3 linked regions of the Homo sapiens genome follow. The protein of the gene in region 1 interacts with the protein of each later gene in a pairwise test. Each region holds a gene or a part of one and is shown in the gene's direction. Other genes may lie near its edges. The genes, in order: TSEN2, CTAG2 and GABPB2.

Region 1 (11,257 bases):
CAGTAGCTTGCCCAAGATTACGTGGGCTCAGCGCCAGAGCCTGGGAGACATTGATATGGGTGTGCACACCAGCACTCCCTGAGCACCTTCCAGTGCTAAGTATCGTGCCAGTGATGGGCCTGTGTGTCATCTCAGGTCCTCACATCACTGCCATGAGGTGGGTCCTGTTCTTATCCATCTTCCACAATTGGAAGAACTGAACACAGGGAAGTGAAGCTCCTTGCTCAGGGTCAGTATGTGGACTTAGGCACTGTGGCCCCAGAACCTATGTGCGCTAACCACTCTAAACCACTCTGCTGTGCACTTCCAGTGATAAAGGGGCATTCATCAGTACAACAATAGGGAACGGTGCCCTGTGCAAATGGGAGAGGTGTGTGTTCAAGGGTGCAGAAACATGAGAAGCCTTGGCGTGTTCTGATGGGCACGTCCTGTGTCCTTGCGGTCCTGGATGGTGCTGCTTTCCCCAGTCCTGTCACTGCTTCCAGTCGTGGCTGCTGCCTCATCCTTCTGCCACGCTCCCCCTTAACACTTTCTGCATTTTACTTCTCATTTCTCTTCCTGCAACTGCTCCAGCATCTGGGATTGATGGCAACAGGACTTGGCTTTTTAAGGTGTTGCCAGCCAGCTAGAGGACGCCTTCAGCTCTGACCCATGTGTCGTTGTCTTAGTCATTTGTTTGTGTGGCTCTTTTCATCATATCTGACTTGGAGGCTTTCTTCTACATGCTCTTCGAGCCTCAGTCTCCTTTGACTTTTCATAGCGATCCTCTGAGACCCTGAAAAGGGAACACAGGTATGGCCTGGTTCTGGTATGTGACAGAAGGCACAGAGGTAGAAGTGCTAAGTGGCTTAGCTCAGAGCCACACGGAAGAGCCAACTCCAGGACCTAGACCTCCAGAGGCTGCGTTCATCCCTGCACTGCTGCCTCTGCTCTCAACAGCAAATTAAGACATTTCCATTCATTAACATCTTTTTCAAGATACCATATATTGAGTCTGATTTATTTTTCAAGCCACTCCTAAAAACTCCACAATGATATAGTAGTATTGATTGAACACTTCTTATGGGCTATGCACTTTACGTGTCTTATTTAATTCTTGCTGCAACCCCAGGAGGTAGGTGCAGTTATCCCTGGTTTGTAGATGGTCACTGAGCCTTAGAGAGGTGGGGTCATATAGCTGGTATGAGAACGTGATGGAGCAAGGATTGGAACCCACGTCTGCTTTGACTGCTCTGCTGCAAAGAGCAGAGCAGTGCCCTCTGTGTGCTCACTTCACTCCAGATCTTCTGGTCAAAGGAGGAACTATTGACCCTTTAAATCAGTGGTTCTGTCACGTGTTTTGAGTCACGGAATTTGGCAAAAGTTTTGGGTCCCTTCCCCAGAAAAATATATTGTCACAAAAATTTGTGTTCAAATAAAGGAAATTTATAGACCCTGTAGAGCCAATGCTTATGTTGATATGAAGAGCTAAGATTCTTTTTAGACCCCTCACATGAAAGTTCTTTTAAACGTATGCATAGGTGGCCATGTTCCAGGTGAGAAGACACCCTGCAGGTTGTGGCACAGCTATGTTCTTTTTGCTGGTTTTAAAAGTAATACATAACAAGATCCCTTTGAGGTGGTAGTACTCATCTCCACATTTTATAGGTGGGAAAATTGAAGCACGGAGAAGTTAAGTAATTTGCATTGCCACACAGTTATAAGTAACAGGGCTGGACACAAAATGTGCCATACCAAAGTCACGGTGCCGTACTGACTCTCAGGTATTAGGGTAGCCTTACCAGGTGTTAATCTTTAGGATACAATTCCCAGTATATAGGGAGGCATCCCTGATGTTCATCCTCATGTGGGGTGAACAGGGTATAGACAGCTTTGGGATTCTTAGGAATCAGGGTTAAGCAACCACTAGTCTCTTTTTAGGTACAGCAGAAGCCAATGTCCTTGTTGAACTGTGTGAGATATAGCAGTTTGTAAACTATGACATATTCAGTCTTTTTTTTTTTCTTTTGGAACATTTCACAAATTTGCGTGTCATCTTTGCACAGGGGCCATTCTAAGTATATGTGCTGCCGCATCGAGCACTGTTCAGTCTTCTTAACCAGGTAAAAGAAGGTGAAAAGTAAAGTTACATCTGCCTTCTCACAAGCCACGTGTTGTCTTGGATGCCTTTCAGACTAATCACTGAAGGTCGAGGCAAAAAGCACTTGAGTTTCACAATGTCTTTGACCTTCTGATCAGATTTCCAACATCTGGTAGTTCTCACATCACATGAACACATCCCAACAGCCTAGGCATGAATGCTTTGCCCTATTGTTTTGCCTATAATTTTTTGTAACTTGGGAAGTGTTTTGTAACTTGGGTGTTAGCTTCAAGTTTTAGAAACTTAACAAGAATTTTATCAATAAAATCTACTCTGCAAAGTATTGTGAGGAAAAGGGCCATTTCTGTTAGAATATGTGGATGAATCTACATAAGCCAAATCATTTCTCTCCTTATCCTGTGAAAGGGTTAGTAGGCACTGTGATGAATATTTATTGAAATTCTCATTTTGCTTTCCAATGCTAAACAAGTTATTTGTATTATGAATGGCATATCTATCTGAAAACATTATGAGATCCAAAATTGAAAATAATACAAAACAAGCTGAGAGCGGTGGCTTACACCTGTAATCCCAGCACTTTGGGAGGCCAAGGCGGTCGGATCTCTTGAGGTCAGGAGTTCAAGACCAGCCTGGCCAAAAATTTGTGTTCAAAAATACAAAAAATTAGCTGGGGGTGGTGACGCAAGCCTGTCATCCTAGCTACTCGGGAGGCTGAGGCAGAAGAATCGCTTGAACCCGGGAGGCAGAGGTTACAGTGAGCCGAAATCGTGCCACTGCACTCCAGCCTGGGTGACAGAGCAAGACTCCATCTCAAAAAATAACAACAATAATACAAAAAAAAAATCTTGATAAAGGATGGCCATTTTCTTGTTTATTTACCTAAATCACTTAATCTATCAGTTTTAAATTAGATAAATTTTCATAGTTTGTTAAACTGGGGGTTAGTTTTTTTTGTTTTTTTTTTTGTTTTTTTTTTTTCAAATAAAGCAAATAAAATGAAACTATATTGTAAAAGCAAAGAAACAAGAAGTAACATATGCTTGTTGCAGAACACTTAGAAAATGCAGAGGCCACACGCGGTGGCTCACACCTGTAATCCCAGCACTTTGGGAGGCCAAGGCGGGCGGATCGTGAGGTCAGGAGATCGAGACCATCCTGGCCAATATAGTGAAACCCCATCTCTACTAAAAATACAAAAATTAGCCAGGTGTGTTAGCAGATGCCTATAGTCCCAGCTACTTGGAGGCTGAGGCACAAGAATTGCTTGAACCCAGGAGGTGGAGGTTGCAGTGAACCAAGATCACACCACTGCACTCCAGCCTGGCAACAGAGCAAGACTCCATCTCAAAAAAATAAAAAAAGAAAGAAAAGAAAATGCAGAAAAGTATAAAGAAGAAAAATATTTATCTATAATGCACCATTCAATAATACTGCTGTAAACATTTTGGTGTGTCACCTTCCAGTCTGTTTTATGTGCTTTGTTGTTTTTTCAATTTTGAAATTCGAGTGCTGTTTCTAACAGTATTTCTGTCTTGCAGGTATCAGCATAGTGTTGAGTGGGCAGCAGAGCTGATGCGTAGACAGGGGCAGGATGAGAGTACAGTGCGCAGAATCCTCAAGGATTACACGAAACCGCTTGAGCATCCTCCTGTGAAAAGGAATGAAGAGGCTCAAGTGCATGACAAGCTTAACTCTGGAATGGTTTCCAACATGGAAGGCACAGCAGGGGGAGAGAGACCTTCTGTGGTAAACGGGGACTCTGGAAAGTCAGGTGGTGTGGGTGATCCCCGTGAGCCATTAGGCTGCCTGCAGGAGGGCTCTGGCTGCCACCCAACAACAGAGAGCTTTGAGAAAAGCGTGCGAGAGGATGCCTCACCTCTGCCCCATGTCTGTTGCTGCAAACAAGATGCTCTCATCCTCCAGCGTGGCCTTCATCATGAAGACGGCAGCCAGCACATCGGCCTCCTGCATCCTGGGGACAGAGGGCCTGACCATGAGTACGTGCTGGTCGAGGAAGCGGAGTGTGCCATGAGCGAGAGGGAGGCTGCCCCAAATGAGGAAGTAAGTAGAAGAAAATAAATCGCTTCCTCCAAAGCCATCCGTTCCTGGAGATGTTGGCTAATAGGGATGTCTTTTGCCTGCAGCTGGTAGCTGGCCTGTTGTAGGGTCCAAGGGAAGCAGCAGGCTTTGGGCCACAGCAGCTGTGAGGGCCATTTCAACTAAAACCCCAGAGTTGGTGAATAACTTTTAAAAAAATTTATAAAATTAAGACAAGGCCAGTGGTATTCTCTCCTTTATTTGGGAGAAAACAAAATGCGGTGATAATTACACCTGATCTTGAGTACAGCTGAGCAAGAAGGGCTCACGTGTGGAAGTCAGCCATCTTGAGAAAAGCCTAGGGAGGCCAGGTAAGAGCTACGTCATGAAGGGACTTGCTGTCAGAGTTACCCTAGAGCTGTCTGGAATTGCTAAAAATTAGAAACAATCTAATTGCTAAATGGGATATGAGATACCCATTCAAAGAAATATCATGTAGACTTAGAATGAGGTTTATGAAGTCATATTAAGAACATAGGAGCCAGGTGCAGTGGCTCACACCTGTAATCCCAGCACTTTGGGAGGACGAGGCAGGAGGATCACTTGAGGCCAGGAGCTCAAGACCAGCCAGGGCAATATAGCAAGACCTCATTTCTACTAAAAACAAAAATAAATTGCTGGGTGTGGTGGTACATGCCAGTAGTCCCAGCTACTCAAGAGGCTAAGGTGGGAGGATTTCTTGAGCCTGGGAGATCAAGGCTGGGCAACAGTGAGACACTGTCTCAAAAAAACAAAAACATAGGCACATGCTTATTAGGTACAATTGGGTGAAAAAAGCAACACGTAAAATAAAATTCACCAACAAAATGATTACAACTGCAGGAAAAATTCACAGGGGAAAAAGGAAATAAATGAGAATCTTCATAGTGAAAAAGTTAAAACTTCCTTTTCCACACAAGTAATAAAAAAGCACTTCTTGGCCAAGCGTGGTGCCTCACACCTGTAATCAACACTTTGGGAGGCTGAAGCGGGAGGGTTGCTTGAGGCCAGGAGTTCAAGACCAGCCTGGGCAACTCTGTCTGTACAAAAAATTAGCCAGGCATGGTGGCACACGCCTGTAGTCCCAGCTACTGGGAAGGCTGAGGCAGAAGAATTGCTTGAGTCTAGGAATTTGAGGCCTCAGTGAGCTATGATCACACCACTGCACTCCAGCCTGGGCAATAGAGCAAGAGTCCGTCTCAAAAAAATTGTGTTTTAATCATTCTTTATAATATTAACACAATAGAATGTGAATCCTGGGAATTTATAAGAAAAATGTTCATTTTAAAATACATTCTCTATGACATGTAGTGCTTCCATTTGTTCTGTATATATTGTATTTCTTTCTCTTTAGTTGGTGCAAAGAAACAGGTTAATATGCAGAAGAAATCCATATAGGATCTTTGAGTATTTGCAACTCAGCCTAGAAGAGGTATGTTTTCAACATATTATTATTTCAGCCATCGGTCTCTGGGCCTGAACTACACTATATGTGAACCTACCTCACAGTGTAGTTCTGTATGTAATTCAATTATTGAATATTGTAATTCAGTATTGAAATCACTATGGGTAGCTCCCAAGTAGGCCTGCCTTTCACTCCTCAGCCTTTATTTCATCAGTTCTAAGATATGTGTTTGCAATCATTCCACAGAAGATTCGAGGGGTTTTTCTGAGTACTTCTTTTCTCATTAAGATTTTAGATTGTTAGGCCGGGTGCGGGGGCTCACACCTGTGATCCCAGCACTTTGGGAGGCCAAGGCAGGAGGATCACCTGAGGTCAGGAGTTCGAGACCAGCCTGGCCAACATGGTAAAACCCTGTCTCTACCAAAAATACAAAAATTAGAGTGATTGCTCATGCCTGTAATCCCGACTACTCAGGAGACTGAGGCAGGAGAATTGCTTGAACCCGGGAGGTGGAGGTTGCAGTAAGCCAAGATCGTGCCATTGCACTCCAGCCTGGGTGACAGAATGAAACTCTGTCTCAAAAAAAAAAAAAAAAAAAAAGGCTTTATGTTGATGGCTAGGTGTGATGGCTTATGCCTGTAGTCCAGCCACTTGTGTGGCTGACGTGGGAGGATTGCTTGAGCCCAGGAGGTCACGTCTGCAGTGAGCCACGATTGCACTACTGCGCTCCAGCTTGGGCGAAAGAGTGAGACTCTGTGTCAAACAAAAAAAAGAATAAAAAGATTTCAGATTGTTAACAGATGCTGACTGGTGATGCCGGGGGTAGGGGGGTGGAAAGAAGAAAAAAGTGGATTTCGGATTGGCTGAATATTTTGTTACTAATTTTCACTAGCTTTTTCAAAAATACTATAATTCATATACCATACAATTTATCCACTTAAAGAGTACAAGTCGCTATTGTTTGGTATATTCATGGAGTCTCTACTTTTCATATACTGTGCTACATGATTCAGATCATGTAGTGACTGCTAGTTAAGTAAATGGATTTATTTCCTTCTGCAGGATCCCTCTACTTAATGCAGTAGCTACATTCTTGAAAGTTAGCTTGGGCCTGGTGCCATGGCTCACACCTGTAATCCCAGCACTCTGGGAGGCCAAGGCAGGCAGATAGCTTGAGCCCAGGAGTTTAAGGTCAGCCTAAGCAACATGGCAAAACCCCATCTCTACAAAAAATACAAAAATTAGCCAGGTGTGGCGGTGCATGCCTGTAGTCTCAACTACTTGGGTGGCTGAGGTGGGAGGGTTGCTTGAGCCTGGGAGGTCGAGGCTTTAATGAACCGAGGTCACGCCACTGCACAAGCGAGATCCTGTTTCAAAAAAAAAAAAAAAAAGTGGCTAAAAGTGGCCTTCCATAAACTGCATCATATTGTCCCAGTGACCTGGAGTTCCTCTAACCTGTGGTCACTTTATGCTCAGACCCTCTTTTCTTGCTTATGTTGATAGTGCACACAGAAATGTCTTTTCTGCCTTTGAAGCTAGGACCGCTTCTTGGGCTCCCCTCTTCTCCAGGAGCTCTGTGATGGCTTTCTTTGATAGTTCCTGCAGTGTCCAGTGTGGTTCTTGGCATACAGGTAGGTCCCAAGAAGTGCTATGGAACACATCCATGTTGGTAATTTTATAGCTGAGACCACAGGAAAGTAATTGTGGGGGCCGGGCGCCGTGGCTCACACCTGTAATCCCAGCACTTTGGGAGGCCGAGGCGGGTGGATCACGAGGTCAGGAGATCGAGACCATCCTGGCTAACATGGTGAAACCCCATCTCTACTAAAAATACAAAAATTAGCTGGGTGTGGTGTCACACACCTGTAATCCCAGCTACTCGGGAGGCTGAGGCAGGAGAATCACTTGAACCCGGGAGGCGGAGGTTGCAGTAAGCTGAGATTGCACCACTGCACTCCAGCCTAGGTGAAAGAGTAAGACTCCGTCTCTAAAATAAAATAAAATAGAATAAACAATTCAAAATTCCTTTTCTCGGTTGCACCAGCCACGTCTCAAACACTGAACAGCCACGTGTGGCCACTGGCTACTGTATTGAACAGCAGATGCGTAGGCATTCCCAGCACTGTGGAGCGCTTTATAGCCCACATGTACCCGTTCTTAGATGTTTGGCCTGTCAGAACCTCAGATTTCTTCTCTGTAAAGTGGGGGCTATGTAACATCTTGTTCATAGGATGTTCTGGAAATTAAATAATACATGTAATTGGGTCAGGACAGTACCTGATAATATAGTAAATGCTCAATAAATGTTAGTGCCTGCTATTTTTGTCATTATTAAGTTACTTGTAAAAGCTAATTAGCAGCTTGTTGGAACCTTCTTTTTTACAATCACAAAAATGCCCATTGGGTACCTACTATGTGCCAGGCATTGGGCTAAGTGCTACCGATACTGAAATAAGTAGAATGTGACTTTGGTCTTAAAGATAGCCCAGAAATCATTACAGTTCAGTGTGATAAGCATAGTGTGGCATATGGATCTTGTCAGTATCGCTCTTCCTGTTTCCTTGGGCCCAATGCCTGACATCTATTAGGTGCGTAATACTTATTAAATGAATGAATGTACAAGATAGGGAATTTGCATCGAAGCTGGTGGAGACCATCTTGCAGGGCTGAGGTGGAAAGCTTTTGCAGTCATGATAGCTGAGGATAGTAAAGGATAAATGGGGCTTGCCACATGGACACAGGGTAGTAAAGGCTCTTCCAGATAGCTCTGCCAAAACGAATGCCAGATGGGGGAGGGTGTGTCCATGAGTCAGGGTCTGGCCTGGTCCTGGGCCAGCAGGGCACTGCAGGGGATTCCGTAGGGGAGTGGCAGTGACCAGAGCTAGCATCAGTATGGAGGGTGGGCTGGAGGCCTGGCCTGGGAGGTGGCAGCTGTAGGCGAAGGGTATTCCGTGTCAGATGCTGGGAGTTCAGCTGCACTGTTCCAGTTGACCAGCTGCTGTCTTTTATTGACAAATTTTTTAAAGGCTGCTGCTGCCTGCTGCCTCCTCTTGAACACCCCCTGATGAAAGGCAAGAGTAATAGGAGACAGGAGATGAGGTTACTCTGCCTTCTTAGAAGCTGCCTGGCACCTGAGAACATTTCAGAGATGTGTTCCAGAAGTTTTCAGGGAGCACACCGTTAAACCTAGCTCTACTTGTCTTTCTGTTTTGGCAGATTTCTTTTGAATGAATCACCTATGTTTGGTGCACTGCATGTACCCGCGGAGTGTTTCTGTGAATGTTAGTCAGGAACACAGGCAGAATGGGGTCTCACCCCTGCTGTGGTGATTCACAACAGCTCTCTTAAGGGACTCAGAGTGGTGATACACAGCTAACTTAGAAGTCTGCTCAGCGCTGACATGGGAAGCTTTTAGTCTGCAACCTTCCACAGATGTGGACATGCGGCCTTGTAGGGGTGTTTTCATGCCTTTGCCTTGACTCATTCAGAACAGAGATTTGGAAATTTTCATAGAGTAATTGAAGAGCTATAAACTGTATTTACCTCAGTTATTTCTGAGTAGTTATTTCTGAAGAGTTCTGTCTCCATCCGTCTTCTGCATCCTTCAGTGGACACGCACACACGCAAACACTCAAATGCTTTGCTCTTCAAATTTTTTATTCTTATATTTTTTAGAGACAGGGTTTCTCTCTGTTGCCCAGGCTGGAGTGCAGTGGCACCATCATAGCTCACTGAAGCCTCATACTCCTGAGCTCAAGGTATCCCACCACCTTAGCCTCCTGAGTACCTAGAATTACAGGTGCATGCTACACCATGTCTGGCTAATTTTTTAATCAAATGCTTTTTAATTAGCAAGATCCAGTGAGAAATAGATTGATTTGGGGGAGCAAATTTTTTTTTAAATGAAAGTTGATTTCACTGTAAAGTAAAAGCAGTTGCATAATGCTGTCATGAAGTTAGGGCTGTCAACTTTGGGGGTTTTTTTTGGTTTTTTTTGTTGTTGTTTTTTTTTTTGAGACAGGGTCTCGCTCTGTCACCTAGGCTGCAGTGCAGTGGCGTGATCTCAGCACACTGCAACGTCTGCCTCCCGGGTTCAAGTGATCCTCCCACCTCAGCCTCCTGGTAGCTGGAACTACAGGCATGCACCATCACACCCAGCTAATTTTTGTATTTTTAGTAGAGATGGAGTTTCGCCATGTTGGTCAGGCTACTCTCTAACTCCTGGCCTCAAGTGATCTGCCCGTCTTGGCCTCCCAAAGTGCTGAGATTATAGTCATGAGCCACCACACGCTGCCAGGCAGTCAACTTTTGAAGGTTAAGGAGCTTTAACGTTTATATTTCCCAAGTTCAAAGTAGATGTGTTTAATTTTACTGTGTGTGCTGTTGGGAAACTGATGGGAGGTGATTTAATAGGGGTGGTGCAGACCAGCTCACTCATTCCCAGCAAGATTCCCACCATGGCAGCACCCCAGTAAGGCCCTGCATTCCAGGTCTAATCCTTTGCTTGAGGGACTAAGAAGTTCGGATTTGTTAGAGCACAGAAAATGACTTGAGCTCTAGGAGCAGCATTCATGCTGAGTGTGCTCACAAGAGCCTGGGGAATAAACTAGAATGTGAGTTTATTAACATCAGCAAAGGCCCCACCACCTGCCTTTCCATATTGGCATGTTCTCTTCATGTAGAAAATTCAGATGCCGAAGGGTAATATAATTGGAAGGCTGCTTGGTGAGCACAGAGTTAGCCTGTGAGGAGTGAGCTGGATAATACAAGTGCTTAAGGATGTCAGGCTCATGTGTCCTTCTCCCCAAGGAGGTATAAACTGTTTTTTACTTGATACTGAAGATTCTAAGATTGTTGTATGACTTTCAATTAATTATTTTACTTAATGTGGTAGCATGCATTCTTTTTCTTGAAAAGCCACCATTGAATTGAGGTATATCAAAGAGCTGCTAACATCTAGACTGGAGGCAGTGTGGTGCATGCATTGGTCTGCCACCGAACCCTTGGGTCGGAGTCCCATCCTGTGCGCAGTGCGAAGACCTTGCCACCGTCACCAGACTCCCCATTTGCTGAGTTTCCTCACTCACTCTGTGTCACATTCTTTAACTGTGTTGATATCATTCAGCTGTGGCTCTGAGTTTGTTGATACATGTCGATTTCTTAGTCTAACTCCAGTTTTAGAGGCTGCCTTACTGGTACTTCTGTGTATTGTTCGTATATACTTATAAAGCTTTTAAAGTGCGTGAGAAAATTTCTCTTATTTAGAAAATAAAGACAATAGTCCCCACACAGGAGGACCAGGTGGGAATGCTTGGAAACAAAGGGACACACCAGGGTCGGGCGACAGCTCTCCTCGTGCCTGACAGCAGCAGTCTCAGTCAGATCTCGTTTACGCATCGTCTTGTGCCCGGCTCTTCCATTTTGTACCTCACCCGTTTTTCCCACATTTCTTTTCCCGTGCTTAGTGTCCATAATATGGATTCCAAGTATCAGAATCTGGTGATTAGAATGTCTAAGATTCTTCCCTAGAATTTTGTGGTTATTTTTTTACTGCTACGTTGTTTGACTAGTCTCCCTCCCCTGCAATAGGTCAGTGACTTTCCTTCTATCTAAACTTCTGAAAATTTTCCAGAGACTTCAACTGTGAGACAGTTTGGGTCCTTTTAGCAAGAATA
Region 2 (10,286 bases), on another chromosome or scaffold:
ACCCTAGTGTCCCAGTTTCTTCTGAAAGGCCTGAGGGACAGCAAGGCTTGGAGGCCCCTGCTGTTCACCACCTTTCTGCTAATCTACATAGTGGTTGTGGTTGGGAGCCACATGTTCACAGTGGACTACCGACGCCACACTCCCATGTACTTCTTCTTGGGCGGCCACTCGCTGATGGATGCCGCCTGTATCTCCAACATGGTGACTCAGGTGCTGGTGCATTTGCTGGCTCAGGTAGGGCCCGTACTTTATTGTGCTTGTCTCATCCAGATATGCTTTCTCCACTTCCTGGCACCCTAGGAGTCCTTCCTCCTCACAGCCGTGGCCTATGATTCTATGCAGCTATCTGCCAGCCATTGCACTACTTTGTCCTCGTGGGCCGACTGACCCACACGGGCCTCACTTCCATCTCCTGCCTGCTGGCCTTGGCCAACGCATTCACCTACAGCATCCTCACAGCTCTACCCAAGTTCTGCAGGCCTTGCCTCATCACCCACTTCTTCTGCGACCTCCGTCACTGCTCAGACTCTCTTGCTTCAGCACACGTACCAATGAACTTGCCCTGTTCTTCAGTTTTCTGGTGGCTCTTGCACACTGCGTCCTGGTCGTGGTCTCCTATGGACACGTTGTGGCTGCTGTTCAGGATTCATTCCACCCAGGGCTGAAGAAAAGCCTTTTCTACCTGTGTTGCCCATCTCACTATGATCGGTCTTTTCTACGTCACTTCAGTCCCCTGCTACATCCTTCCCAACTCTGCATACTCTGGCTTGGGCGACTGGGTGCTCTCTGTGCTATGTGTGGTCCTCACTCACATGCTAAACCCCATCTTCCCCAGCATGCTGGGATGACAGGCATGAGCCACCGCACCGGCCAGGAAATATTTCTTGAAAGAAAGAATGAGAGAGTACCTCGTGTCTCCCCATTATGGGGTTTGGCACTGGGGATACAGAAAAGCTCCAGACAAGCTTCCTGCCTTTATGGAGCTCACAAAGTAGGCTGGGCTATTAGGCACTAAGACAATTCACTGTCATACAATGGTTACTCGCCATTCCTTCACAGGAAAGGGTCACTCACCCCTACCACCAAACCTAGGAACGGCCACATGCTGCTCAAAGGGTCAACACAGCTGCCTTTCACTGTTCTCAAGTGATGGCGGGTGGGCGCTCAGAGAAGACCAAAGGCTCAAGGCCAGGACACTAGGCCATCCGGGGCTTCCCAACAGACCCCCATCCCGAGTCCCGCACAAGAGCCTGCAATGACCCCCACAGGGCGAAACAAGCCGTGCTCATCAGCCCTGGTAGGTATGGCTGGGCCCTCCCCCTGGGCCATATGAGGCCAGCCTACATCATCCCCACTTAGACCGCCCCACTCAGGCCAAATTCCTAGGAAAGGGGCCGGGAATCTGTGTAGACCGGGGGAGATTGTTCTCATCATATAGGTGAGAGATGATGCCGACCTGGCCTAGGGAGGGTGGAGAGGACACATTGAAGGAAACTGACTGGACGGAAGGTGAGATGACAGAGTGCGGGACCATGGAAACGCGTGTCGCCAAGACAGAGAATGAAGCAGAGGGAAGCCATTCCGGGAGTCGGGGGACAGGCAGTGAGGTCAGCTGGGGGCAGGTTGGGTTGGAAGTACCTACAGGCCATCCAAGCTCACATGACTGTGCTGGTTTGAAACTCTGGAATTCAAGCAAAGAGATCCCTGCTTAACTTTAATTCAATGGCCCTCTTTGAATATAGACATCCTGGCCCTGTCACCTCTGAAGCTTCACCATTCCAGATGATGCCTAATGTGATTTCAAATACATTTCATCCATTCCAAGCAAGTCTTCTCTGATTCGGAAACACAAAGACTGTCTGCCAGCGTGTGTGGACCAGGACCGGCCCTCTGGAGGGGAGGGGCTGTTATGGGCCTCGGTAGGTTTTGTGTTTAAGCACACATGTGTTCTTCATGAGTACCTCCAAGGTGCAGAAGAAAAAAAAAATCTCAGTGTGTAATAGTGACAAAATGCTGATGAAGCAAACTATCAACAGCCCTCTGGAGGAATAACTTTCAAGGTAGGATGAACTGTGTGTGTGGAATTTGGAAACAATTGTTTTTTGGAAGCGGCTGAAAGCCACAGAGATGACCAGGAGAGCCGGGCGACATCTGCCCCGTGGTGTCTAGCGTGGGCCCCGAGGCTCGGTGACTTCAGAGACTTCATCACGGCACCGTCCGCCTCATTACATCAAGAAAAGGTGCCAATTAGAACAAGTTTCAGAGGAAAAATATGGCCTCCAATGAATTGAACAGGCTAATTTAAACTTTGGCAAACTGGCTCACTCCAGAGCTAATTAGAAATTTTCCTCAACAGCAAGTAATGAATAACTTTCTTAATCGCTTTCTGCTTATAAATGTAATACATGTTCACTGCAAAAGAAGAGGAAATATGGGCAAGTTCGGAAGAGAAAATAAAAAACCAACCGTTATCTCACCGCCAAGGATAACGACAATGAAAATGTGGTGTATTTCTGGATAAATGAGCCAATTCTTGTCTAGTGCTTACAACAGTGGCTTGGGACATGGTGACCACCCAACAAATGTTATTGGTTATTATTATTCTCATTGCTAGTAGGCTTAGAAAAGTCTTTTCCAATGCTATCCCTCCCCCAGCCCCCCACCCCCAACAGGCCCCGGTGTGTGATGTTCCCCTCCCTGTGTCCACATTGTTCAACTCCCACTTACGAGTGAGAACATGCGGTGTTTGGTTTTCTGTTCCTGTGTTAATTTGCTGAAAATGATGGTTTCCAGCTTCATCCATGTCTCTGCAAACGACATGAACTCATTCTCTTTCATGGCTGCATATATTTCATGGTGTATATGTGCCACAGTTTTAAAATCCAGTCTAACATTGATGGGCATTTGGGTTGGTTCCAAGTCTTTGCTATTGTGAAGAGTGCTGCAATAAACATACATGTGCATGTGTCTTTATAGTAGAATGATTTACAATCCTTTGGGTATATACCCAGTAATGGGATTGCTAGGTCAACAAGTTGATGGGTGCAGCAAACCAGCATGGCACATGTATACCTATGTAACAAACCTGCACGTTGTGCACATGTACCCCAGCACTTAAGGTATAATAATGAAAAAAAGGAAAGAAAAGAAAGAAAGAAAGAAAAGGAGAGAAAGAAAGAAAGAAAGAGAGAAAAGTCTTTTCCATTCCAACAATCAAATAAAGTTCATCTAAATTTTCTTCCAATGTTTTTACTTTTATTGTGTATATATTAGGTCAATACATTCTAAACACTTCAGATACTATAGAAATATTTCTCTATATAGCATTCCCCCGTGCTTCTACTGAGATATGTATCGGCAGCCTGAGAAGTCGGCATTCCTTTGTCCACACCCATCCCCGTGCATCCGTTTCATTTCATTCGCTCCACAGTCAGCCGCACCTCAGAGTTGTCCTTCAAAGGGTGAGAGACTAAGACTTTTATCCAGTGACTCTTGGCCCCATCGGTGGGGGGCTGTGTCCAAGGGTACAACTTCCCCAGAGCTTCCAGGCCCACCCTGTGCAGGGCGCAGGAGAAAAAGCAGATGTGTTGTGAGCTGCAGGAGAGGCGCTGGCACAGGGCACAGAGGTCCCCACCCCAGCAGCCGAGAGGCAGAAGGCACGTGCAGGGGGCCCAGAGGCTCAGCAGGATCTGAGATGTGAGAAGATGTCTACGAACACAGAGGCGCAGGAGGAGGCCGGAGATGACGGTCACTGGAGGGGCTCTGAGACGTGCACAGAAAACAGGACAGAGCTTGGCAGCAGCACTCATTTGTCGCCCTGCCACACACAGCCTGTGTTTTCTCCTTGACAGCATCTCAGTAGGACCCAATAATGCCAACGCCTGGAGATCCCTCTGGACAACCGTCTTCATCCTCCACATCTGGTCCTCCCCTACACCTGGGGCCTGGACCTGCTAAGGAGCTCTTTCCAGTTTTCTAGACACCTGTGGAATCCCTTCACCCACCCTTACCCATCGGTGTGGCTGCTCTCCAGCTCACTCTCGTCCTGCTCTCCCCAACTGCCTCGGCTCCAGGGGGACGAGGCTTTCCCTGGGCTGCTGCCTTCCCTGCCCCCTTCCCAGTCCCCAGAAGGGTGCCAGCCTCAGAGGCCTCCAGAGCAGAGCCTTGCTCACCGCAGCAGCTCCAGCTGGAGGAGGTTCCCCCTGCCTCCTGCACCCTGACCCCTTCTTAGAGCAGCAGAGGCAGAAGCAGGAGCCTGCTTTGGAAAATGACATGTTTTTATTGCTATGTCTGCAGTGGCTTTTTAGCACAGTAGAATGTCCCCGCAGGCCCGCCACCCTCACCCAGCCCCAGCCCTGCAGCCTCTGTCTGGGTGTCGGGGAAGCCTTTCTTGGGGTCACTCAGCCGTCTGAGGACTGGATGTGGCACAGACATACATAGGTTAAAGCTGCTACACGGAAGACTGGAGATGCGGGAAGTGCATTCGCTTTAAGCCTAGAGGTGGTAGCCGTGTCCGGGGTCCCTTCCTGGGGGTGTGCCTGTTACCGAAATACCAAGGGTTTGGTCTACGTCCTGCTGCTGGCCGCACAGAAAGCCAATGACTGACTGAGACGAAGAGCATTACCAGGGAAGACGGCTTTAATTGGGTGCTGCAGCCGGGGAGATGGGAGTTAAGTCTCAAATCCATCCCCCTGACTAAAACTAGGGGTTTATATAGCCAGGAAGAAATGCACCAATGTGTAGGAAAACAGGAACTCGGGAGGGCCCAGAAAGCAATCCTGATGAATTTGGGGGGTCCAGCATCTCATTGTCTGGATGTGGTTATCTGGTGAGTTTCAGTTCTTTGATATTTTGAGAGGCCCGAAGGTCATTTCCTGAGGAAGGAATTCAGATAAAACAACTGTAAGGTTCAAGCTTGAAGACCAGAAGGGTCAGTTTCTATGTGTATCAAAAAGAACAGCCTATGGGACGATTGGATCGGTTTCATGCCCAACCCAGGGTACAGGATGTGGGAAGCCTGAGCCGGCCTGGTGAGCAGCCCAGACACCCGGGATGGAGTATTGCAGCCTCTCGCCCCACAGACTTGTGAACAGGGCGTGGGGACAGACACCCAGCTCCTAGGGCCATGCCACCCCCACCCCTGCCCGCCTCTCGCAGCACCTTTCCTGTGGATCTGACCCCCTTCCAGACACAGAAGTAAGCCAGCACCCAGCAGACACAGGGTCACCTCCCAGCTCCCTACCAGGCAAGAGCGACCAGGGCAGGGACTGATACTGCCGAACCCAGGAGCCAGGCCCGACCCAGCCTCAGGTCCAGCAGGTCCCGCCTGTCCACCTGGGCCAGGCCTAGAGCCCGGGAGCCCCTGGCTGGTGGGAGGCCACCCGCAACCCACCCCACACGCAGCTCCAGCTCCCCCACCAGGCGGGGCGACTAGGACAGGGACAGAACCCGTTGAACCCAGGAGTGAGATCCGGCCCCGGGTCCCGCTGGGCCCTCCCGTCCACCTTGGCTGGACCTGGCGCCTGGGAGACCTTGGCTGGCGCGAGGCCACGCCCACCAGACATGCAGTTCCAGCTACCCCACCAGCTGGGCGACCAGGACAGGGACGGAGGCTGCTGAGCCCAGTTAGAGGCCTGCCCCCCGGGGTCTGTCCTGGGCGCTCCCCCAAGGACGGACAGGGCAGACAGGGTCCGGGACGATGGCCGCACAGTCCCGGCCCCGTGTTCCCAGGCCCGTCTTGCTCCTCGATGTGAGGGAGACCCGGGGGATGGGACAGGCTGGGCCCCGCAGTGCCTGACTCCCTGCAGGGCTCCCGGGACAGGGGTCCGGCGGACAGCCGGCTGCTCAGGGGTGAGGGGTCCAAGCTGGCATTGCGGCCACCTTCCGGCCCGGGCTCTCTTGGGGAGGGGCGGGGTTGGTGAGAACCGGTCACGTGCTCCGGGGCTCACTCGGGGTCTCCCAGGGCCGGAAGTAGGGCCCCTGTGCGCAGGCGCCCTGAGGATCCCGGGCTGCCCATCTCACGCCAGGGGGCGGAACTTCCTGCAGCCTCTCTGCCTCCGCATCCTCGTGGGCCCTGACCTTCTCTCTGAGAGCCGGGCAGAGGCTCCGGAGCCATGCAGGCCGAAGGCCGGGGCACAGGGGGTTCGACGGGCGATGCTGATGGCCCAGGAGGCCCTGGCATTCCTGATGGCCCAGGGGGCAATGCTGGCGGCCCAGGAGAGGCGGGTGCCACGGGCGGCAGAGGTCCCCGGGGCGCAGGGGCAGCAAGGGCCTCGGGGCCGAGAGGAGGCGCCCCGCGGGGTCCGCATGGCGGTGCCGCTTCTGCGCAGGATGGAAGGTGCCCCTGCGGGGCCAGGAGGCCGGACAGCCGCCTGCTTGAGTTGTATCCTGTTCTGTTCTGTTCTAGGAGGTTCTGGTGGCGAGGTGGGGGCCGTGAGACGGAGACAACAGGGTCAAGAGGTGGGGGGCAGGGCCAGGAGGTGGGTGAGGGCAGGGCCAGGTGCGGAAGGTGGGGTTTGGGAGATGGGGGTAAGGCGCCGGGTGGGGTGGGGGTGGGGGCTGGGAGTTGGAGGTCGAGGGGTGGCTCAGAGGAAGGGAGTAGGTAGGGGATGGGAGGTGGAGCGTGTGCACAGTTGGGTGCTGGGCGATGGGGTGAGGGGCAGGGGGACAGGAGACAGGGGTTCTTGGGTGTGTGAAGGGATCAGGAGTTGGGGGGAAGCGTGCAAGGTGGGAGCCGGTGGCTGGGGTGTGGGCTGGATGGGGGTGGTGTCAAGCGATGGGGAGAGGTCCCGGCTGATGCGGCAGGGGGCATGGTGGGGAGGGCCTTGGAAGGGCACGCAGGAGTCAGCTTGAGGTGCAACAGAGGAAAGTGGGGAATCAAGACAGCTGGGTGGGGTTGCTGCAGGACCTGGGCCAGTGCGTGGGGAGACAGCCTGAGGGGATGAGATGGGCACCGGCCAAATCCTAGGAGATGGCACCTTAACTGGGTCCCCACCAGGCACATCACGATGCCTTTCTCGTCGCCCATGGAAGCGGAGCTGGTCCGCAGGATCCTGTCCCGGGATGCCGCACCGCTCCCCCGACCAGGGGCGGTTCTGAAGGACTTCACCGTGTCCGGCAACCTACTGTTTATGTCAGTTCGGGACCAGGACAGGGAAGGCGCTGGGCGGATGAGGGTGGTGGGTTGGGGGCTGGGATCCGCCTCCCCGGAGGGGCAGAAAGCTAGAGATCTCAGAACACCCAAACACAAGGTCTCAGAACAGAGACCTGGTACACCAGGCCCGCCGCCACCCGAGGGAGCCCAGGGAGATGGGTGCAGAGGTGTCGCCTTTAATGTGATGTTCTCTGCCCCTCACATTTAGCCGACTGACTGCTGCAGACCACCGCCAACTGCAGCTCTCCATCAGCTCCTGTCTCCAGCAGCTTTCCCTGTTGATGTGGATCACGCAGTGCTTTCTGCCCGTGTTTTTGGCTCAGGCTCCCTCAGGGCAGAGGCGCTAAGCCCAGCCTGGCGCCCCTTCCTAGGTCATGCCTCCTCCCCTAGGGAATGGTCCCAGCACGAGTGGCCAGTTCATTGTGGGGGCCTGATTGTTTGTCGCTGGAGGAGGACGGCTTACATGTTTGTTTCTGTAGAAAATAAAGCTGAGCTACGATTCCGTGTCTGAGTCTCTTTTCGGCGAGCGAAGGCACCTTCGGACTTGCATGCCCTTGTCCTCGGGTTGTAGGGGAGGCTCTGGGATTCACAGATTGAAGTAGCACAAGGTAACGGGAGGCAATTTGGGAAATGGGGGAAAATGAAAAGCCACTGGGTCCCGCCATTCAGCATTAACTACTGTGGACATTTTAGAATATTTTCCTCAATATACTTGCATTTATATGTTAAATATATGACAGTAGCATATATAATGTTTTTCCAGGTCAGCATTAAATTTTTTCCCAAATTGTTTTCATTGAACATATGAGCTTTTGTGCTTTCTAAAAATGCTTCAAAAACATGTACTTGAATAGATGCATAAAACCAGCATTATTTCACTGTTAAACATGTGATATGGGCCGGGCATGGTGGCCCACACCTGTATTCCCATTGTTCTGGGAGGCTCAGGTGGGAGGATGGCTTGAGACCTGCAGTTGGAGGCCACCCTGGGCAATGTAGTGAGATTCTATCTCTATAAGAATCATTTAAAAATTAGGGGTGGAGGGAGTGGTGGCAGGAACCTGTAGTCCCAGGTACTCAGGAGGCTGACGTGGGAAAGTGGCTTGAGTCCAGGATCTCGAGGCTGCAGTGAGCTATGAATGCATCCCTGAGCTCCAGCCTTGGCGACAGAGCGAGACCCTGACTCTAAAGTAATAATAATAGTAAATGTGAACAGCGTAAAATGTTTGTAAACACGTAATGTTAACACAGATTCTCTTACTGCTTGCAGAGTCTAATGAACAAGAGCAAGGTTTCCTGTAAAGAAACTGACTTTCTGCCATGCTTGGTTTAGGGGAAGACGTACAGGCTCCTGCCTTTAAGAGCACTGCTTCCCATTGGGGGCAGAAAGCAGGGCCTTTTAAAGGAGGACTTGGCGTGAATGGTAGGCAGGGGAGGGAGCAGGCAGCTGTGGGGTCTGCATGACATGCTGAGGTGTCTTGTCTGCCGGGAGGTCACGCTGGCACCATCTTGGGCAGAGCTAGGTTGGAAAGGGGCTGTTTGTCAAAGCAAAACAGACATATGCTTGAGCTGTGTTCTGGGATGCTCTTAAGTTGCTCGGAGACAACTTGATCCCTTTGAGTTTTGTTTTAGCATTTGCTCGGTGGGAACATAGCAGATTTTAATGTAAGATTAATAATATTAGTTGACAATCTCCAATGCTTGGCAAGGCTGTAGTTGGAAACGAGGACTCATACACTGTCAGTAGGAGTGGTAGTAACATCTATCTGGACATTTATTTGGCATTTTCTATTAAGGGAAAGATGTACATTCCCTTCCACCCACCTTGAGGAATCCATCTGAGAAACTCCTGGATATGCAAATGAGGTAGAATCCACCAGCATCTTAATGACACCACCACGTAAATAGTTTTTAGAATGTAAATGTCCACCAGCTGCGGAAAGGCTGAACAAATCACTGCACAACTGAGGAAGGCGAGGGGGGTTGGTACATCCAGGCTGTGCCAAAGCCGGTTCTGTCTCAGAGCAGAGGAGTTTTTCCAAGAGACGTGGGCACGCTGTGAGGAAGTCCCAGCAGGAAGCCAGGCGAATGCCACCTCCGCATGCCTGCCCCGGAGGGTGTGAGCGGCTTCCTTCTCCTCTGGATCGGTGGTGTGTTAGGAGAGGCCCGGCTCTCTGTCAAGGCCAGGGACGGATGGAAGCTGAGAGAGGACGCTGAGACCTGGGGAGCTTCCTGGAATGCAGGGACGCAGTGAACTCGCTCTGTTTCAGCCCGAGGTGCGCAAAGGAAAACTGAAAGACCAGCAGCAATGTCAGAGAGACCTTCCTGTCATGCCAGCGGGATTCCTTGGGAGCCAGTGAGCGCTCCAGCCCTTGAGGGCTCTGTCACAGCTGGTGGGAGCATGGGTCAGGGCTGTGGCAGAACACACCCCAGCCTCAGGTGAAGAGGTCCCTAATGCTTCCCTCTAGCCCTCATATTCCAGAATTCCAAGTCAAGTCTGAAGAGTCCACTTAACTTCCGTCCTCTCAAACATGCAGAGTGGTCGTCACACGCGGTTAGAGGAGTTTGACTCCTGGTGAAACGGGGAGGCCCGGGCAAACCTGGCCACGAGTCCAGCATGTGCCCGCCCCAGCAAGGTCACCGTGCCCCAGGGGAAGCAGCACCGGGAGAGGTCACCATGCCCCAGGGCCGCGACCCTGGCCGGGCTGACTCAGAAGTCCAGCTGCATTGCAGCTGTAACTGCATCCAGACAACTTTGACCAGGTGCTGAGCCACTGGCCCCTGCAGCCAACATCACGGGCACAAAAGCAGAAGCCCAGGGAGCAAAGATGAAGATCCAGGAGCACAGTAACTGTCAGGTAGGGACCTGCTGGCCCACTGAGTCTGGGAGCAACACCACAGGCGCTGCAGGGAGACCCCCGGAGTGACCCGGGGCCTGTCTCCAGAGGGCGGCCCTTCCTTAATTGGAGCTGCCTCTTCCCCTCCTGCCCTAGGATGTAAACCCTGCTTGGCTGAGGTATTGAATTCACGGGGAATCTGACCCCGCTCTGCCCATGATGCTCATCTGTCCTCTGGGGCCTCATTCCCTGAGCTTCCCAGAGCGGCCTCCTTTGTTTGGCTCAGCTCTGTGTCT
Region 3 (11,257 bases), on another chromosome or scaffold:
AAGCTGGTCTCGAACTCCTGACCTCAGGTGATCCGCCCACCTTGGCCTCCCAAAGTGCTGGGATTACAGGCATGAGCCACCGTGCCCATCCTCTACTTTGTCATTTCAATAATGTTATATAAGTGGAATCATACAGTATACATGATTTTGAGATTGGCTTTTTTCCTTTCAGCATAATTCCCTTGATACCCATCCAAGTTGTTGTTTGAATCAATATTTCATTCCTTCTTATTGCTGAGATTATTCCATGATATGGATGTACCACAGTTTGTTTAACCATTTACCCAGTGAAGGACATTTAAGCTGCTTCCAGTTTCAGCTATCTAAAAATAAAACTGGCTGGGCACAGTGGCTCATGCCTATAATCCCAGCACTTTGGGAGGACTACGCCGGCAGATAGCTTAAGCCCAGGAGTTTGAAATCAGCCTGGACGATATGACGAAACCCATCTCTAAAAAAAAATACAAAAAAAAAAATATATTAGCCAGGCGTGCTTTTGTGTGCCTGTAGTCCCAGCTACTTGGGAGGGTCACTGGAGGCCAGGAGGTTGAGGCTGCAGTGAGACATAATTCTGCCACTGCACACCAACCTGGGTAACAGAGTGAGACTCTGTCTCATAATAAATAAATAAATAAATAAATAAAGCATTATGAACACCATAATTGTTTACAGGTTCTTATGGGAAATAAAAAAATGGGAAATAGGGCCGGGCTCAGTGGCTCACACACTTTGGGAGGCCGAGGTGGACGGATCACAAGGTCAAGAGATCGAGACCATCCTGGCCAATATGGTGAAACCACATCTCTACTAAAAATACAAAAATTATCTGGGTGTGGTGGCATATGCCTATAGTCCCAGATACTCGGGAGGCTGAGGCAGGAGAATCTCTTGAACCCAGGAGGTGGAGGTTGCAGTGAGCCGAGATTGTGCCACTGTACTCCACCTGGAGACAGAGCGAGACTCTGTCTCAAAAGAAAAGAAAAGAAAACAAATGAGAAATAGGCCAGGCATGGTGGCTCAAGCCTATAATCCCAGCACTTTGGGAGGCAAAGGTGGGTGAATCACCTGAGATCAGGAGTTTGAGACCAGCCTGCCCAACATGGCAAAACCCCATCTCTACTAAAAGTACAAAAATTAGTCAGGCGTGGTGGCAGGCACCTGTAATCCCAGCTACTCGGGAGGCTGAGGTAGGAGAATCACTTGAACCTGGGAGGTGGAGGTTGCAGTGAGCCAGCATCATTGCACTGCACTCCAATCCGGCCTGGGTGGAGCCAGACTCCGTCTCAAGAAAAAAACAAGTAGGAAATAAATTTTCTATTCTCTGGGATAAATGCCCGAGAGTACAATTGCTGGGTCATAAGGTAAGTGTGTGTTTTGTTTTGTTTTTTAAGAAACTGCCAAACTTGGGCGGATCACCTGAGGTCGGGAGTTTGAGACTAGCATGACCAACATGGAGAAACCCCATCTCTACTAAAAATACAAAATTAGCCGAGTGTGGTGGCACATGCCTGTAATCCCAGCTACTCAGGAGACTGAGGCAGGAGAATCGCTTGAACTGGGGGCAGAGGTTGCGGTGAGCCGAGATCGCGCCATTGCACTCCAGCCTGAATAATAAGAATGAAACTCCGTCTCAAAAGAAGGAAGGAAAGAAAGAAAGAAACTGGCAAACTATTTTCTTTTTTTTTTTTTTTTCAAATGGAGTCTCACTCTGTCACCCAAGCTGGAGTGCAGTGGCACTATCTCAGCTAACAGCAACCTCCGCATACCAGGTTCAAGTGATTGTCCTGCCTCAGCCTCCCGAGTAGCTGGGATTACAGGCAGGTGCCACCACACCCGGCTGATTTTTGTATTTTTTGTAGAGATGGGGTTTCACCATGTTGGCCAGGCTGGTCTCAAACTCCTGAGCTCAGGCAGTCTGCCTGCCTCGACCCCCCAAAGTGCTGGGATTACAGGGCATGAGCCACTGCGCCCATCCTGCCAAACTATTTTCTAGAGCGGCTGTACCATTTTACATTCCCACCAGCAATTTATGAATAATCCAGTATGTCTACATCCTCTCCAGCATTTGGTATCATCACTTTTTAAAAAACTTTTAGCCCGGCACAGTGGCTCACACTTGTAATCCCAGTACTTTGGGAGGCCAAGGCAGGTGGAATATCTGAGGTCAGGAGTTTGAGACCAGTCTGGCTAACATGGAGAAACCTCATCTCTATTAAAAATACAAAAATTAACTGTGTGTGATGGCATGCACCTGTAGTCCCAGCTACTCAGGAGGCTGAGGCAGGAGAATTGCTTGAACCCAGGAGGTGGGGGTTGCAGTGAGCTGAGATTGTGCCACTGCACTCCAGCCTAGGTTACAGAGTGAGACTTCTCGATAAAAAAAGGCCGGGTGTGGTAGCTCACGCCTGTAATCCCAGCACTTTGGGAGGCCAAGGCAGGTGGATCACGTGAGGTCGGGAGTTTGAGACCAGACTGACCAACACGGAGAAACCCTGTCTCTACTAAAAATACAGAATTAGCCGGGTGTAGTGGGGCATGCCTGTAATCCCAGCTATTTGGGAGGCTGAGGCAGGAGATCACTTGAACCTGGGAAGCGGAGGTTGCAGTTAGCCATTGCACTCCAGAGATCACGCCATTGCACTCCAGTCTGGGCAACGAGAGCAAAATTCCATCTCAAAAAAAAAAAAAAAACAACTTTTAGCCATTCTGACAGATGTGTAGTGTGTCATGTGTGTTGTGTGTGTGTTGACTCTTCTCTCACTTATCTATGAGAAGAGAATTAATTTAGGTACAGATAATGGCTATTGGCTTTTATTAGAGGTCTCAAAAATATATAAAGACTTCAGGCCTTCTTTTGACAGATTATTTCTGCAGTTTTTTTTGTTTGTTTGTTTGTTTTAAGACAGGGTCTCATTCTGTCACCCAGGCTGGAGTGCAGTCGCGAGTTCTTGGCTCACTACGGCCTCAACTTCCCAGGCTCAGGTGATCCTCCCACTTCAGCCTCCCAAGTAGCTGGAATTACAGGCATGCTCCACCATGCCTGGCTAATTTTTTGTATTTTTTTTGCGGAGACAGTGTTTGCCATGTTGCCCAAGCTGGTCTTGAACTCCTGGGCTCAAGTGATCCTCCCACCTTAGCCTCCCAACATGCTAGAATTATAGGTGTGAGCCACCTTGCCCTGCCATTTCTGGGCGGATTGATAAGCTAATTGGCCATAGGTGACCTAGAGTCAGACACCTTCATATAAGAGCTTCAGACTTGGGACTTACTTGCATGGCTTCCAAGCCTGCAAATCTATACCCTTCCTTTTTGAGCCATTCTCAGTGCTCTATTAATCCTTTTTGTTTCTCCCTGAAGGGCCATGCCTTACCTGTTGATTCGAAAATTCAAAGAGATATTAAAAATAATATATCAAGGAATATATTTTACTTTCTCTTTCTTTGCTTTTTTGTTGAGATGGGGTCTTGCTGTGTTGTCTAGGCTAGTCTTGAACTCCTGGATTCAAGAAGTCCTCCAGTCAGCTGCCTGAGTAGCTAGGACCACAGGCACACACCACTGTACCCAACCTAGAATATATTTTAGTTTATTTTCTAATTAAAAGCAAGCAAAACCTCTTTGTTTTATTATGCATTCATCACCTCCAATTGGTGTCCTTTGACTTGTAGTTCTAACTGTACCTGCTGGTAAGGTTGCAGAGGAGACTGTAATTAAAGAGGAAGAAGAAGAGAAGTTGCCACTAACAAAGAAACCAAGGATAGGAGAGAAGACAAACAGTGTGGAGGAAAGCAAGGTAATGTTTTTAGGAGTGATGAAAAGAATTTAAAGCCTTAATTATTAAGGCCTGAACCCTTCTTCATCTTTTCTTTTTTCTTTTTGAGACGGAGTCTTGCTGTGTTGCCCAGGCTGGAGTACAGTGGCATGATCTCAGCTCACTGCAACCTCCGCCTCCCGGGCTCAAGTGATTCTCATGCCTCAGCCTCCTGAGTAGCTGGGATTACAGGCACCTGCCACCATGCCTGGCTAATTTTTGTATTTTTAGTAGAGACAGGGTTTTGCCATGTTGGCCAAGTTGGTCTCGAACTCTTGACCTCAGATAATCTGCCTACCTCTGCCTCCCAAAGTGCTTGGATTATAGGTGTGAGGCACCGCTCCTGGCCTGTCTTTTTGTCTACTGTCTGGATAATTTATGATCAGGAATTTACCTGGTGGTGACATGGCTTACTTTTACAGGAAGGCAATGAAAGAGAGCTACTACAGCAACAACTCCAGGAGGCCAATCGAAGAGCCCAGGAATACCGACACCAGCTCCTAAAGAAAGAGCAGGAAGCAGAACAGTACCGTCTTAAGCTGGAGGCCATAGCCCGACAGCAGCCCAATGGAGTTGATTTCACCATGGTTGAAGAGGTGGCTGAGGTAGATGCTGTAGTAGTCACAGAGGGGGAGTTGGAAGAGAGAGAGACAAAAGTGACTGGGTCAGCAGGGACCACAGAGCCTCACACTAGAGTTTCCATGGCAACTGTTTCATCTTAATATGCAAGGGCCACAATTTGCACTGTGTTCATATTAATCCTCTTTTAAAAAAGGAAATATACAGAAGACAAACATTGTATAAAAACTAAGAGTGTCTTTAAGAAGAAAACTATAGCAGGGTACAATGCTTGGGCTCAGGAAGTTTCTCTGTGCAACTAGAAAATTCAAAGCCATATTTAGGGAACATTTTTTCTGAGGGGCCAAAAGAATAAAGGACCAAATTTCTTAGCTCATATCATTGCTTTAAACATAGAAGTAAAAGAATACTGCATGTTGTGGGTTGATTTTTTTTTTTTAAATAACTGACTTTCTCACAAAAGATTTTAAGATAACATTTCTAATATATATGCACCAATATATATGCCTTTAATAATTATACCATCAAGTGACCTGAAAATGCCCCTTAGATTTATGATGCGTATCTGTTGGAAAAACCAATTGGAAGGGAAGTTAGACAAGCTTTGGGGAAGAGAAAAGGAATATAGTCCATTTCCAAAGGAGCAGGAACTCCCAACCTTAAGTTAATTTCACTGAAGAGAATTTTCCCTTTTTTTTTTTTTTTTTGAGACACGGTCTGACTCTGTCACCCAGGCTAGAGTACAGTGGTGCAATCTTGGCTCACTGCAACCTCCGCCTCCAGGGCGCAGCCTCCTGAGTAGCTGGGAGGACAGGCATATGCCACCACATCACTGAGAAGAAATTTTTGATTGTCTGACAGATACTTATCCATTATGTGTCTATAGTTCAGATGCTTGTGTAAGAAACTGAAATAAGCTGCGTGTGGTGGCTCACACCTGTAATCCCAACACTTTGGGACGTTGAAATGGGAGAATTGCTTGAGTCCAGGAGTTTGAGATGCGCCTGGGCAACATAGAAACCTGTGTCTACAAAAAATTTAAAAATTAGCCAAGTATGGTGACAGGCACCTATGGTTCCAGCTACTCAGGAGGCTGAGGTGGGAGGATCGCTTGTGCCTTGGAGGTCAAAACTGCAGTGAGCCATGGTTGCACCACTGCTCTCCAGGCTTGAGTGACAGAGCAAGACTGTATCTCAAAGGAAAAAGGAAACTAGGCCAGGCGTGGTGGCTCACGCCTGTAATCCCAACACTTTGGGAGGCCGAGGCGGGCGGATCACGAGGTCAGATCAAGAACATCCTGGCTAACACGGTGAAACTCCATCTCTACTAAAAATACAAAAAATTGGCCGGGCGCAGCGGCTCACGCCTGTAATCCCAGCACTTTCGGAGGCAGAGGCAGGCGGATCACAAGGTCAAGAGATTAAGATCATCCTGGCCAACATGGTGACACCCCGTCTCTACTAAAAATACAAAAATTACCCAGGCATAGTGGCACACGCCTGTAGTCCCAGTTACTTGGGAGGCTGAGGCAGGAGAATTGCTTGAACCTGGGAGGTGGAGGTTGCAGTGAGCCAAGATCGTGCCACTGCACTCCAGCCTGGCGACACAGTGAGACTCTGTCTCAAAAAAACAAAACAAACAAACAAAAATACAAAAAATTAGCCGGGCGTGGTGGCACCTGCCTGTAATCCCAGCTACTTGGGAGGCTGAGGCAGGAGAATCGCTTGAACCCGGGAGGCGGAGGTTGCAGTGAGCTGAGATCGCACCATTACACTCCAGCCTGGGCAACAGAGCCAGACTCTGTCTCAAAAAAAAAAAAAAAGGAAATTGAAATAGAGTTTTTAAAAACTGAACTGGAAAGCCGAGGCGAGCGGATCACCTGAGGCCAGGAGTTCCAGACCAGCCTGACCAACATGGAGAAACCCTGTCTCTACTAAAAATACAAAATTAGGGCCAGACCCGGCAGCTCATGCCTGTAATCCCAGCACTTTGGGAGGCTGAGGTGGGTGGATCATGAGGTCAGGAGTTCAAGACCAGCCTGGCCGAGATGGTGAAACCCTACTAAAAATACAAAAATTCACCTGGCGAGGTGGCAGGCACCTGGAATCCCAGCTACTCGGGAGGCTGAGGCGGTAGAATCACTTGAACCCAGGTGACAGAGGTTGCAGTGATCCAAGATCATGCCACTGCACTCCAGCCTGGGCGATAGAGTGAGACTCTGTCTCAAACAAACAAAACAAAACAAAATTAGCTGGGTGTGGTGGCACATGCCTGTAATCCCAGCTACTCAGGAGGCTGAGGCAGGAGAATCGCTTGAACCCGGGAGGCGGCAGTTGCAATGAGCCGAGATGGCACCATTGCACTCCAACCTGGGCAACAAGAGTGAAACTCAATTAAAAAAAAAATAGAAAAGAAAGAAAACTTGTTTATGTGGGAGGAGTATATATAAAACCAAAATCCAGGCTGTGTTTCCACAGTGCTGGGAAGTGGCCAGAAAAAGGCTTATAGGGGCTATGAAACTCTGGTCTTGACATATAAACTTTGCTCTGACTGGATTTCATAAAATTACAGTGAGGAGGGTAGTCTCTTGTCAGAAAAACTTGTTTCCAAACATTTATGTAATGTCAAGCTCAGTCTCTCTTTTTTTTTTTTTTTTTTTTGAGACGGAGTCTTGCTCTTGTTGCCCAGGCTGGAGTGCAATGGTGTGATCTCAACTCACCGCAACTTCCACCTCCCGGTTTCAAGCTATTCTCCTGCCTCAGCCTCCCGAGTAGCTGGGATTACAGGCACGCGCCACCACGCCCGGCTAATTTTGTATATTCAGTAGAGACAGGGTTTCTCTATGTTGGTCAGGCTGGTCTGGAACTCCTGGCCTCAGGTGATCCACCCGCCTTGGCCTCCCAAAATGCTGAGATTACAGGCGTGAGCCACCCCGCGCACAGCCTAGACTCTAATTTTATAAAACTTTGTTGAATTTTCTAAGTGTCATTTAGGACATATTGTGCTTTTCTGTGGAGCTTATATCTTATCCTCTTATGTGCAACAAAAAGGGGGTCGGAGGTAAATGCTGATGATGTTGTTTAGTTTTATTTCCTTTTGATCTGGCATGAGTAAATTGCTCTGTTTCCTTAAGCTTGGGTCTGTTACAGAGCTTTGTGCCTTATAGGGTGCTCAGTGTGTGTTGACAAAGGGAATAAGAACTGTCAGTGCCATAAAGAACCAAAGATTCTGGCTACTTTGTCTTCTTCCTTTCTCTCCCACTATGCCTACACTTCCTCTGCCCAGACACTTTTGGAAAGTGTTTAACTGCTGGGTTTTCTTTTTCTTTTTCTTTTTTTTTTTGAGACGGAGTTTCACTCTTGTTGCCCAGGCTGGAGTGCAATGGCGTGATCTTGGCTCACCGCAACCTCTACCTCCTGGGTTCAAGTGATTCTCCTGCCTCAGCCTCCCGAGTAGCTGGGACTACAGGCATGCGCCACAATGCCTGGCTAATTTTGTATTTTTAGTAGAGATGGGGTTTCTCCATGTTAGTCGGGCTGGTCTTGAACTCCTGACCTCAGGTGATCCACCTGTCTCGACCTCCCAAAGTGCTGGGATTATAGGCGTGAGCCACTGCGCCTGACCACCTACCTGCTGGGTTTTCTTTGTATGTCAGCATGGAGTTTTTCCCAAAGAAAGGGAATATGGATGGAGAGAGAGAGGTTATGAACAGGTTATGTTACAGAGGTTATTGCCTTTGAAACTGGGCCCTCATCATTCTAGACTTGCTTGCTTTGTTATAAATTAGAAGAAACCAGAGGGAGATGTGCCAAGTAAACATTCGAATGACTGTTTAGAATATGGTTTTCTTAATTAGCAGTCATGGGGAAAACATGCATTTTTAATTTGGAAAAAACCTGACAGTTAACATGGTTCTGTTTACCTTGATTAGTGAAGTAATTTGCTGCAGTGTTACAGAGGAGCAGAATCACTTGGGTCTCAAAATAGACTGAAAATTTAACTCCCCAAACCAAATTTAACAAACAGAATTGGTTATTAGAGATTTATAGGCAAAAATATCAGTTTGGAAATTAACCTTGGCTACTGGCCACCTTAGCTAGGTTTTCTCCACAGATCTGTTTTCTCCACAGATCTGAGTACTTAACACTTCCCAGATGATTGGAGAATATTCTGGGCTGTTGGGGATGACAGGAAAATGTGAGGGGGAGTAGCCTAGGTAAGGGTGATGATGAAATTGTTCTATCTGCTGTCAAATAATCTTTTCCTGTTTGCAATGTTTTTATTTTTTCTGAGTCCCTTTGGGAACCAGGTGCTAACAAGAAGCTGTTATGTGTGGGATTTCGGAGCCTTACTTTAACGATAGAGGAACCAAGTATCATTTTAGATATCTTTTATTTATGTTCTCGGTGCATATGTTGACTTTAATCCCTCTTCCCCCACACCTCGCCCATTAAGGGGAAGGAGGTTAACTCTGCAGATGATATTCAGGCCCAACCAGCTCACTCTCTGGGGTGGCTACTGACTAAAGGCAGAGAATGTCCATCCAACATGCCCTTCTGACTATACAGTCACCACTTTTTTGGGGGAATTCTTTAGCAGATCTTATTGTTCTTTCTGCAGAAGCTATCATTCCTACCTCCCCAACCCCCAAAATCTCTAATACAGGCCAAGTCATTTTTTATGATGGGTCTCTGAGATAGGGCAGTTTGTTAGAGGAGAGGCTAGGGTAGAGAGGGAGAGAATGGAGGTATCTGAAAATAAGTAAGAAAAAGGCATTGATTTTTATTTACTCGGAACGGTCCTCTTGGCATCCCAGATAAGGGAAATAGGATTTGATCTCCAATTGTATTGCCATGGAGAGAATGGCAGGTGAGGATGCTTTGAAGTAGTTAGAAATTAAATATTGAATACATTAATGGCAATACCATTTCATGACTTTGCATATCTTTCTGGATTAGTCATGGAAGTTGGGGAAATATTGCTTAGATCTTCTGGGTTAGAGGATTCCAACTGTTTATTGGCAAGGTTGGATTATTAAGAATCAAATAGCAGACAAAAATGGCTGGGCACGGTGGCTCACGCCTGTAATCCCAGCACTTTGAGAGGCTGAGGTGGGTAGATCACTTGAGGTGAGGAGTTCGAGACCAGCCTGGCCGACATGGCAAAACCCTGTCTCTACCAAAATACAAAAATTAGTTGGGCATGATGGCATACGCCTGTAGTCCCAGCTACTCTGGAGGCTGAAACAGGAGAATTGCTTGAACCCAAAAGGTGGAGTTTACAGTGAGCTGAGATTGTGCCACTGCACTCCAGCCTGGGCAATAGAGCGAGACTCTGTCTCAAAAAAAAAAAAAAAAGAAGGAAAGAAAGAAAAAACAGACAAATGGATCAGAATTGGTGCTTGAGCAAGAGAAACTTCGAGCTTAGGATGGTTGTCTACTTTAAAATAAAGCTGCTGGCCGGGCACAGTGGCTCACGCCTGTAACCTCAGCACTTTGGGAGGCCAAGGCAGGTGGATCACGAGGTCAGGAGATTGAGACCATCCTGGCTAACACAGTGAAACCCTGGCCCTACTAAAAATACAAAAAATTAGCCGGGCGTGGTGGTGGGTGCCTGTAGTCCCAGCTACTCGGGAGGCTGAGGCAGGAGAATGACGTGAACCCAGGAGGCAGAGCTTGCAGTGAGCTGAGATCGCCCCACTGCAACAGATCGCCTGGGCAACAGAATGAGACTCGGTCTCAAAAAATAAAATAAAATAAAATAAAATAAAATAAGTAAAGCTGCTGGCCAGACATGGTGGCTCACGCCTGTAATCCCAGCACTTTGGGAGGCCGAGATGGGAGGATCACTTGAGGCCAGGCCAGCGTGGTGAAACTCAGTCTCTACTAAAAATACAAAAATTAGCCGGGGGTGGTGGCGCATCATCATACTGGTGAGAAAAAAAAAAAAAAAAAAGAGGCCGGGCGCGGTGGCTCACAAAAAAAAAAAAAAGAAAGAAAAAGGAAAAAAAGAAATATCAGTTTGAGAAATGATTTTTTTTTCTTTTTTCTTTTCTTTTTTTTTTTTTAAACAGAGTCTCTCTCTGTCACCCAGGCTGGAGCGCAGTGGCATGATCTTGGCTCATTGCAACCTCTGTCTCCCGGGTTCAAGCGATTCTTCTGCCTCAGCCTCTGAAGTAGCTGGGATTACAGGCACGCGCTAATTTTTGTATTTTTAGTACAGACGGGATTTCACCATATTGGCCAGGCTGGTCTCGAACTCCTGACCTCGTGATCCACCCTCCTTGGCCTCCCAAAGTGCTGGGATTACAGGTGTGAGCCACCACGCCCAGCCTCTTTTTTTTTTTTTTTTTCTCACCAGTATGATGATGACCATTTTAAGAAAGCTTGTGTGGCTCTCTCCTATCATTACAGACCTCCAGAGCTGGAAAATTTGATGCATTTACTGAACTCTTCCTGAAAGTTTAATATGGAGTGGGAATCAGTTTTTGTCCTAATTTATTAGAGAAGGCTTCCTCTTCTCTACTCCTTGTGCAAACCCATCTCTGGATAGCTAGAAAAGGAACTTCAGAATGGACTATATGTGATGACCACCTGTATGCACTCTAGGCTCTTATCTGTCTCTATTTTATGTGGTGACTATATCTCAGAAGTACTACCCCTTCTGAGTAGTACTATTATTTCCTATGCCAATTTTTTTTAAGTCTCTGATGCTGCCCTTTTTAAATTTTTGTCTTATTTTTTAGCCTCTTTAGTATTAGGGGGTGAGGTGACATTCCTAGACTCTACAGTAGCAGTTTGGCATGTTAGTGACAGGAAATTGTGATTCCCTATCTCCCCCTCCTCCTACCTTTTCTGCTTTTGTGATTCC

What was found.
Region 2: the proteins of TSEN2 (region 1) and CTAG2 interact in binary tests that used the Homo sapiens proteins (3 or more experiments, as listed by UniProt).
Region 3: the proteins of TSEN2 (region 1) and GABPB2 interact in binary tests that used the Homo sapiens proteins (3 or more experiments, as listed by UniProt).

Annotation. Positions count from the first base shown.
Region 1 is NC_000003.12:12,499,623-12,510,879, forward strand, and holds part of TSEN2 (tRNA-splicing endonuclease subunit Sen2), read left to right. Parts: intron 1-2,045; coding exon of another isoform or gene 2,046-2,102; intron 2,103-3,639; coding exon 3,640-4,162; intron 4,163-5,531; coding exon 5,532-5,609; intron 5,610-7,085; exon of another isoform or gene 7,086-7,213; intron 7,214-11,257.
Region 2 is NC_000023.11:154,649,343-154,659,628, reverse strand, and holds CTAG2 (cancer/testis antigen 2), read left to right. Parts: upstream 1-6,049; 5' UTR 6,050-6,113; coding exon 6,114-6,382; intron 6,383-6,997; coding exon 6,998-7,132; coding exon of another isoform or gene 7,133-7,361; coding exon 7,362-7,500; 3' UTR 7,501-7,652; downstream 7,653-10,286.
Region 3 is NC_000001.11:151,113,727-151,124,983, forward strand, and holds part of GABPB2 (GA-binding protein subunit beta-2), read left to right. Parts: intron 1-3,665; coding exon 3,666-3,790; intron 3,791-4,230; coding exon 4,231-4,530; 3' UTR 4,531-10,460; coding exon of another isoform or gene 10,461-10,589; 3' UTR 10,590-11,257. UniProt on the Homo sapiens protein: May function as transcription factor capable of interacting with purine rich repeats (GA repeats).